Linked DNA regions of Homo sapiens. The gene in region 2 interacts genetically with the main gene of each other region. Each region holds a gene or a part of one and is shown on either strand. Other genes may lie near its edges.

Evidence for each region. A genetic interaction does not mean that the proteins touch.
Region 1: changes in ELOA (region 2) and FASN together harm fitness less than expected from each alone (positive genetic interaction), as found in Homo sapiens cells (one large-scale study listed by BioGRID).

The regions. Positions count from the first base shown.
Region 1 is NC_000017.11:82,077,357-82,082,062, forward strand, and holds the end of FASN (fatty acid synthase), read right to left. Parts: coding exon 4,653-4,706; intron 4,488-4,652; coding exon 4,245-4,487; intron 3,997-4,244; coding exon 3,808-3,996; intron 3,567-3,807; coding exon 3,336-3,566; intron 3,235-3,335; coding exon 3,014-3,234; intron 2,883-3,013; coding exon 2,784-2,882; intron 2,253-2,783; coding exon 2,001-2,252; intron 1,925-2,000; coding exon 1,787-1,924; 3' UTR 982-1,786; downstream 1-981. UniProt on the Homo sapiens protein: Fatty acid synthetase is a multifunctional enzyme that catalyzes the de novo biosynthesis of long-chain saturated fatty acids starting from acetyl-CoA and malonyl-CoA in the presence of NADPH.
Region 2 is NC_000001.11:23,756,225-23,761,031, reverse strand, and holds part of ELOA (elongin-A), read right to left. Parts: intron 4,759-4,807; coding exon 4,647-4,758; intron 4,080-4,646; coding exon 3,907-4,079; intron 1,521-3,906; coding exon 1,459-1,520; 3' UTR 1-1,458. UniProt on the Homo sapiens protein: SIII, also known as elongin, is a general transcription elongation factor that increases the RNA polymerase II transcription elongation past template-encoded arresting sites.

The sequences.
Region 1 (4,706 bases), on a different chromosome or scaffold from region 2:
AGCTGCCTAGTGTTGGGGGACCGCAGGAGGGGTGTGGCTGAGCCTCGCTCCGATGCCCGCCTGCTGTCCACACTCACGCCTGGACACTGCCCACCTGCAGCCGCTGCACCAGGCCCACCCCCCCAGCAGGGCCCGTGGTGTTCACTGTAGTCCTGGCCCACTACCCTGCCCTGGGAGATGGCCCCTGCGCCCACCCCTCCCCTGCCTCTCCAGCAGGGGCTCTCCCAGCCCCCCACCCACCTCTGTGCCTTGGCACTCACACTGAAAGGGCCTCTTCTGTGGGCATGCTGTGCCTTCCGGAACCCCGGGCTGGCCTGCTTTGCCCATTCCCGAAATCCAATCCTGGCTCTCGCTCCTGCCCATGCCTCTACCCCAAGCTCATGTCCACCCAGCGGCCCCCCGCACAGCCACCCGTGGGGTGCTGCCCTTATGGGTCCTGGAGGCTGTGTCCACCCCACCCCTCGATGCCGGGGGTCCAGGTGCCCAGGGCTCCCTGTCCCTTGCTCCCTCCCAGCCTCCACTCCTTTGCCTAAACCCAAGTCTTCTGGGTCAACCTGGCCAGCCAGTGGCGCTATTGACACCGTCTTGGTGAGGCTGTGACGGCATCTTTGGCAGGGCGAATGCCTGCAATCCACTGACTTCAAGCAAATACTATTCTCCACGAGGGGCCTCTCCTCAGCTGAAGCCAACTTCCCAGTGTCTGTACCTCCTACACGTTTCTCACTGGTGGTGTTTCTTGGCCAGAGCCTCGGTACCCCCCCCCCCGCCAGTCCCAGCGCTTTCCCGGGAAGCCCGGGGCTGCCACGCGGGCTCCTTCCTCACTCCCCGGCCCAGCCCCGGCTCTGGGACATGGCCTAGGGGTGTGTGGGAACTGGGGACCAGAGGACAGAGGGCATCCCCTTCACGGCCCCGTGACTGGGTGGGGTGGAGCTGGAGAGCTTGCAGCTGCCAGGTCAGGGAGGAGGGAAGAAAGGACGGTGGTGGAGATCACATGCGGTTTAATTGTGGGAGGCTGAGAGCAGCATTTTTACCAAATTGGTGTAAAAATGAAACGGGGTCCAGACGTGTACACTGACAGTTACAGTAAATTTCAAAATCCAAGCAGCAATTTGAATCATTTCTTGAAAAACAAACACAGACAAACACCAAACATGGAGTTGGTGCCCGGCGCCGGGCATAAGGGCAGCACCCCACGGGTGGCTGTGCGGGGGGCCGCTGGGTGTGGCCGGGCCCTGTGTGCCTGTGCAGGGGCCCAGCTCCTCGGGGACTGGCCCACGACCCCCCACTCAGCGGGCTGAGCCAATGCCTGGCCGAGAGGGGGCCGCAGCCAGCAGGCTTGGGTGGCTGCCCGCGCCCGCAGGGGACATCGGGGAAATGGGGGCAGAGTGCGGGACCCACACGCTGCCTGAGGAGTCTTGGCAGGGTGGACAGGCCTGGGGGTCTCTACCAGCAATGCAATAAATATGCAAATCCAAGCACAGAAAGACCAAGCGCAGACCCCACGGGCGCACGAGGCCCAGCCCAGTTCCTGCGGGCACGGGCACCACCGGCTCTTCACAGACCAGGAGTCTCCAAGTCGGCAGCTCTGGTGTCCCCGAGGTGCCGTGGGAGGCGGCGGGTGGGTGGGACATGCCTAACACCTACATCTAGCAGCCTCGGGGGGCAGTGGCACTGGGCCGGACAGGGTCCCACCGGCAGGACCCTTCAATCCCGTTGCATGGCGGGGGTGGGGTGGGGTGGGGTGGGGATGGTGGAGTGACCTCCGGTGGCAGGCGGGGGCACGGGCCTAGCCCTCCCGCACGCTCACGCGTGGCTCAGCCAGGGAGCTGTGGATGATGCTGATGATGGACTCCAGGCCGCTGCCCTCCAGCAGCGTGCGGTGGTCACCCTCGATGACGTGGACGGATACTTTCCCGTCGCATACCTGCAGGGGATGCGATCAGCTGCCGTCCCACCCCACTCCTGTCCCTGTCCCCGTTCCCGTCAGGCCCCTTGCGCACCTGGGAGAGGTTGTAGTCCGCGCCCAGGTCCTCGCCGTAGGCGCCACCCGTCTTGGCGCGCAGTAGCATCACGTTGCCATGGTACTTGGCCTTGGGTGTGTACTGCTCAGCGGCACGCAGCTTGTAGTAGAAGGACCGGGCCGCAAAGCTCAGCTCCTGGCGGTCCAGGCCCTGGTGGCTCTTGATGATCAGGTCCACGGCGGCTGCCACACGCTCCTCTAGGCCCTTCAGCGGCAGCAGCGCCTCCAGCACCTGTGGGGTCGGGCTCTGAGCAGGTGCTGGCAGCACCCACAGCACCGGCCTGCCCTGTGCTACACTGCGGGTGGGCTTTTTTTTTTTGAGACGAGTTTCATTTTTGTTACCCAGGCTAGATGGAGTGGGGCGATCTCAGCTCACCGCAACCTCCACCTACCCGGTTCAAGCGATTCTCCTCCCTCCGCAACCTCCACCTACCCGGTTCAAGCGATTCTCCTCCCGAGTAGGTGGGACTATAGGTGAGTGCCACCATGCCTGGCTAATTTTTGTATTTTTAGTAGAGAAGGGGTTTCTCCACGTTGGTCAGGCTGGTCTCGAACTCCCGACCTCAGGTAATCTGCCCGCCTTAGCCTCCCAAAGTGCCGGGATTACAGGCATGAGCAACCGCATCCGGCCGGGATCGGCTATTAAAGGGGTGAAGTTGGGGGGCCTTTAACGCTCTTCGCGTCCCATCCCATCCTTCCCTTCCCCCTTCCGTTCCTGCCCAGTACTCTGGGTCCTGCGGCCTCAGGGGTGTCCAGGACCCACCCTGTTGTGCTCCATGTCCGTGAACTGCTGCACGAAGAAGCATATGGCCTCCGTCTCAGCCTCAGCCTCACAGCCTGGGGTCAGCTTTGCCCGGTAGCTCTGAGAGGAAGGAGGGACTGCTGAGCAGATGGAAGGGGCGGGGCCTCCTAAGCGACGGTCCCCCAAAGCCAGGGCACAGGTGGGGAGCCCAGACGTTTGCCGTAGGCCTCTAGGACCAGCCTGGCTCTCACCTGGGTGTAGGCCAGTACGTAGGTGGGCGAGCCGTCGAACAGGAAGAGGCTGTTGTGGGTGGGGGCTGGGCTCTGCTGGGCCTGCAGCTGGGAGCACATTTCAAAGGCCACGCAGGCCCCGTAGGAGTAGCCGGCCACGCGGTAGGGGCCCTCGGGCTGCACCTGCCTGATGCAGTCGATGTAGTAGGCAGCCAGGCTGTGGATGCTGTCAAGGGGCGCAGCTGCAATGGCAGTGCCGGGCACTCAGCATGTGCAGGCGGCAGCCACGGGCCCCGTGATGGCCAGCACTGACCACCGCTTCCAGAGGAGGGCCCGGGAGTACCTCGGGTGCACTGCAGGCCATAGGTGGGGATGCTGAGCCGGGAGGCCAGGCTGTGGAACACGGTGGTGGAGCCCTCGATTGGGTGCACCAGGAACAGGGGCCGCTCCGAGCTCTGCACGGAGTTGAGCCGCATCAGGGTGGGGCCCTCCGGGTTCACCAGCAGGGAGCGCAGGTTCAGCTGAGTCTGCTGCTGGGCCAGACCATCCTCCTTGGGCGTGGGGCATGCCAGCTCTGTGAAGACAGGGGCAGATGCCAGGCTGGTCTGGGTGCAGAGCCCTGGCACCCACGCAAGGACACACAGACACGCACGCAGGTCCCCACGGTGCTACGTCAGGTGGGAGTCGGGGTGGGAACGCTCAGAATGGCACCCGTGACGAAGGGCGGTATGCCTGCCGGGACACGGTCCAGACAACAAGGAGGAAGGGCTGGGGAGGCCCGGGGACCCCACTCCCGCCTGGCCACCCACACGCACCGCTGGCCTCATCCGCCTTTGAGGACAGCTCCTGCAGTTTCCGGAGCGTGAGTTGCCGCACCTCGCGCACGGACAGCACCAGGTTGAGCTCACGCTCCAGCGTCTGGCGCACCTCCACGCTCATGAGCGAGTCCAGGCCCAGGTCCGCCAGTGAGCTGTCCAGGTTGACAGCAGCCAAGTCGCGGATGCCTGGAAGGGATGCGCCGGGTCGGCAACTCCAGAGGGGGCATGGGGACGGCCTGTATGCGGCAGGGCTGACACCCAGGGGTGCGTGGGCTGTGCATCTCCCAAAGCACCACCACCACAGTGACACCTGCGCCCGCACCCTGGCTCTGCAGATGGGGAAACTGAGGCGCACAGGGGCACGACTGCTATGTCCCAAGACCCTGATGCCAGCAGGGGAAACACCTGGCGCGGCTCCTACTGGGAGTGCTCACCCAGGATGTGTGCCACGGCCTCCACCAGGTCCCGCTGGCTGTCCCTGTCCCTATAGGCCGCAGCCTTCTCAGCCAGCACAAAGCTGCTCAGGACCATGTGGGGCTGGTTCAGGAAGAGGTCCAGCACCTCCAGGCAGGACGCCATGCGCTGGGGCAGCGTGCCACTGACGATCGTGTCGTTGGTGCTCATCGTCTCCACCAAAATGCCCACGTCGCCGATGGCGCCCCACTGCACGGCCAGGCCTGTGGGGGAGGGGGCAGGTGGGCAGAGCTGCGGGGAGGTCGGGGTGGGGAGTGGCCACTGGGAGAGGGTGGGGTGGGCAGGGCTGCGGGGAGAAGGTGGGGGTGGGGAGTGGCCACTGGGAGAGGGCAGGGTGGGCAGGGTCGAGGGGAGAGGGTGGGGCCCACCTGGGAGGCCTTCGTGCCGGCGTTTCTCACAGATACGCTCCATGGCGGAATTGG
Region 2 (4,807 bases):
TGTATCCTGGGCTTTGAGAAAACTTATCAGGCTGTCACACTTACCATCCCTTCAGTCTGCTTGTCAGGTTCCTTAAGGACGCATATCTCAAATGTATGGCATCTACCTCTACCTGGGTCACAACCAAGTGGGTTTCTACTAGATCGGTGTTCCTTGACAGCCAACAAGGGAGCTGACACTGCCCTCCTAAGTTCTGATCTTGCTCCTGTTCAACTGGAACTTGATGGATCCCATGTGGTTTCCCCCATCCTGACGCTGTGGCTCAGACACTCTCCCTAAGCTGGTCCTTCCCTCCAAATCCTGCCTTAAACACACTCAGAAGGTAGAAAACACTTCAGCAGCAAAGTCCTCTTCCCAAGCCAACAGTTGTGTTCTTCCAATCACATGATCTTACCTTTTCAATAAAAGGCAAAACAAACCAATTTCCAACATAGCATTACAGCCTTTAAAACCATTCACTTCTCATAGTGATTCACAGAGAACAAGAGATTAAAGTGCTGGATTTTAAATGTCTAAAGTTGCCTTCAGGGCTACAAAAAGCCCTGCCGTGTGTGTTTTTCCTTCATGGTGTTGAGGGGAAGGAAAGATAGGGAAGGGCAGTGGGGAGAAACCCTAAAATTTTCAATCAGAAACTGGAAATTGTAAAAGTGGGAGGTGGGGAGTTCTGTGCAAATCAATCTCCCAAGGTTCTGCGTCCTCTAGTGAGCCTCAAAGAAAAAAAAAAAAACAAAAAGGTGGGGACTCGCAAAAAGGATGAGGGAAAGGCTCCAGACCTACAGAGCACCTCCCTTAATAAATACCAGTTAGTAAGAAAGAGATGCACCTGCACAGGAATGCACAGCAACAGTGGGGAGGGCCTGAGGTGGAGTCCGCCGAGCACCCTGTCGCCCCACTGAGGCTCCCTTGGGGACAGGCGGTCTAGTGCTCATTCCTTGCCCTACGTGCAGCAGGTACTGTGCAGGCTCTGGAGATGCCCAGTCCTCTGTCTGGACCAGAGTCCACACAGAGCTGAGCTGGGGCAGGAGACTGGCTTTCACTAGGCTTTCATCTGATTTTAATAAGGACCTGGAAGATAAAAGGCTAAATGTGTGGTAGAGGACAAAAAACAAAAACAAACCTGGGGGATAATATAAATACAATCTGGGGGCAATATTTATTAATTAAAACTACGTCTTATAGTTTACAAAGATGCTAATGAACAACAAAAGTATAATTGACCTTTAAAATCCTCAGTGAGACAGAGGCTTCACATCTTCAGAATTCTAAAGTGTGCTCCAGGCAGGGAGGCGGGGCTGTGGCACGCAGGTTCCCAGGGGCAGCACCTGCAGACTGCAGGACTCGGAGACCAAAAGGATCCACAAAGCAAGACTCCAGTCTCCTGTAGAATTCCATTCCCCAACCCCCACTGTCCTTGTATTCCTGCCTCCCCAGATTCCATTTCCAAGGCAAGTCCTCAGTTTATCGTCGGGAGAATCTGTTCTTGAAAGCTTTAATTGTCTTGGCCATCATTGGGGCAATTTCTGTGAAAAGAGAAACAAGGCAGCTGTCTCAGATCTGTGGCGGCTTAGACACACCCCCAGTAGTTTACAGTCAAAGCCAGCTCTGCTATTCTTGGCTGTGCACCACCAGGCAGAGATACAAGTAGTAACTATCTCCTCTGTTCACAATGCAATAAAAGCAACAGCACAGAGCAGACACTTTCGGAGGACCTGCCAGGGGCATGACCACCACTCTCTCTAACCACCTGCACCAAGGCTCAGAGAGCCTGGCCAACTTGCCCATGGTTGTACAGTAAGGTACAGAATTACAATTCAATCTCTGTCAGACTTTCTTGTTTTTATTTTTGTAAGGAAAGAGTCTCACTCTGTCACCCTGGCTAGGGTGCATTGGCACAATCACAGCACACTGTAGCCTCTACCTCCTAGACTCCAGAGTAGCTGAGACTACAGGAGTGTGCCACCATGCCTGGCTAATTTTTTTTTATTTTCTGTAGAGTCAGGGTCTCACTATGTTGCTCAGGCTGGTCTCGATCTCCTGGGCTCAAGCACCCTCCTACCCCAGCCTCCCAAAGTGCTGGGATTACAGGTGTGTGTGAACCACTGTGCCCCGGCCCTTGCCAGACTCTAAAGGCCATACTCAGTCATAACTTAACTTTGCCTCACAAATAGCCAAACCAGTAAACAGCACGTCTACCCCCAATCTGTCCAGTGTAGAAACAGGTCTAAGGTGGCTATGCAAGTACTGCCTAAGGAAGGCCAGCCTGCCTCCTGAATGGTTCATCTGAGCATAGCTGTAGCTCAAGCCAGGACTCCCACCCTCCCATGGGCCCTGCAATTAATACAGAATAAGACTTAAGTTAGGACATCCCCTTAGGATACTGGGGATAGTCTATGGTAATAAAGTTAACAAAATACAAAATAGACGCAACTAGATATAAAGAATAAATATTTGGAAGACCCGGCCAGGCATGGTGGTTCACGCTGGTAATCCCAGGACTTTGGGAGGCTGAGGCGGGCGAATCACAAGGTCAGGGGTTCGAGACCAGCCTGGCCAACATGGTGAAACCCCGTGTCTACTAAAAATACAAAAAATTAGCTGGGCTTAGTGGCGGGCACCTGTAATCCCAGCTACTTGGGAGGCTGAGGCAGGAGAATCGCTTGAACCTGGGAGGTGGAGGTTGCAGTGAGCCGAGATCACGCCACTGTACTCCAGCCCAGGCGACAGAGTGAGACTCTGTCTCCAAAAAAAAAAAAAAAAAAAAAAAAAAAAAAATAAATAAATAAATTGGAAGACCCAATTAGATATAAAGAATAAATATTTGGAAGCTAGAGTTATAAGACTATAAAAAAACAGTAAGAGGGCCTGTCATTTAGCTGTTAATATTAGTAATTATGAACACTGTGGTATTGCCTAGAGAAGTCAGTTTATATTTAGGTGAAAAAAGAAGAGTGCCAAAATGGTCATTCACAATGATATTTATTTATTTATTTAGAGACAGTGTCTCACTCTGTCATCCAGGCTGGAGGGCAGTGGCACAATCCCAGCTCACTGCAACCTCTGCCTGCCAGGTTCAAGCAATTCTCCTGTCTCAGCCACCCGAGTACCTGAGATTATAGGCACATGCCACCATGGTGGGCTAATTTTTCTATTTTTAATAGAGACAGGGACCATGCCTGGCCAGATACTATTTTCTACTTTCACTTTTTTTTTTTTTTTTTTTCCAGAGACAGGGTCGGCCGGGCACAGTGGCTCACGCCTGTAATCCCAGCACTTGGGAGGCCAAGGCGGGCAGATCGCGAGGTCAGGAGATCGAGACCATCCTGGCTAACATGGTGAAACCCCGTCTCTACTAAAAAATAGAAAAAATTAGGTGGGCATGGTGGTGGGCACCTGTAGTTCTAGCTACTTGGGAGGCTGAGGCAGGAGAATGGCATGAACCTGGAAGGCAGAGCTTGCAGTGAGCTGAGATTGTGCCACTGCACTCCAGCCTGGGTGACAGAGCGAGACTCCATCTCAAAAAATCCTCCCACCTCAGTCTCCTGAGTAGGTGGGACTACAGGTGTGTACCACTATGCCCTATTTTTTAATTTTTTGTAGAGGGTCTCATTATGTTGTCCAGGCTGGTCTTGAACTCCTGGATTCAAGGGATCCTCCTGCCTCAGCCTGCCAAAGTGCTGGGATTACAGGCATGAGCCACTGCACCCAGACTCACTATAACTATTTAAGAGATATAATGCACTATGGACAAAGCAGGGGGAAGGAGGGACTGACATTCAGACCAGCTATGTGCAAGGCATCATGTACATGCAACATGCAGTCCACAAAATGTAATACAGTGAATAATGACATTGAGAGTTAAAAACTAGTGCTGAAATAATATTTGAGCAGGAACTCCAAGTTACTTACTCTTCACAGTGGGTTTCCTAGGATCATAGGAAACAGTGCTGCTGACCACTGGTGCCAAGTGGGCACTGCTGGTGCTTGGGCCATCATAGGCCGGCTCCTCAGGGCTGGGGTTAAAGCTGATGCTACTGGCGGAAGCATGGCTGCTTCCCATGGGGTACGGGGCTGGCTTGATCCTGCAACACAGGACAACACTGGTTAGGCATGAGCACAAGAAATCTGCCCTGAGCATGAACAGCCTGAAGCTGGCCTGTGTGAGGATGACTCACCCTGTTTGTGGCTTTGACCAATGGACCCTATCACCCTGGATTCTGGTGGTGGCTCAGAGATGTCTCCATTATCCTTTCAGAAAAAATGATAATCTCAACTAACTTTTCACTGTTTTGGTATAAATCTGTATTTTGAAAAGGCTAATGTGGCTTAGACAAAATAACAATCATTGCAGAAATGTGTTTTTTGTTTAGATGGGAAAAGGGAAAGCATAAGGGAATGTTTCCCATAAGCCAGGCTTTGCTCTCCATTTAATCTTGACTACCCTAGGGCAGGGGTAATTATCACCTTGCACTGCAGTCCAAGAAGCGGAGGCTGAGGGAGGTGAGGGAAGTGCTGAGCTGATGAGGTCTGCCTCCAGAGCCCACAGTCTGCACTGCCTCACTTTCACCAAAAGCAATTTGCTTCCTGCCGCTATGGCTACCTCTAAGGGTTGATAGCACACAAAAGCCAGGTAAGAACACAGATCTTACTTGATTTTCTCAGGGACAGCTGCTCCTCCCGTTCCAAACTTTTCCTGCCTCCTCCGGACGTCACGAGGTGGCTTGGCCACAGAGTTGACAAAGGCCATCTTTGCTTGTCGGCCTGTGGAATTATGGAGATGAACATCTGCCTTCTTGAGCAGAGATGCTAC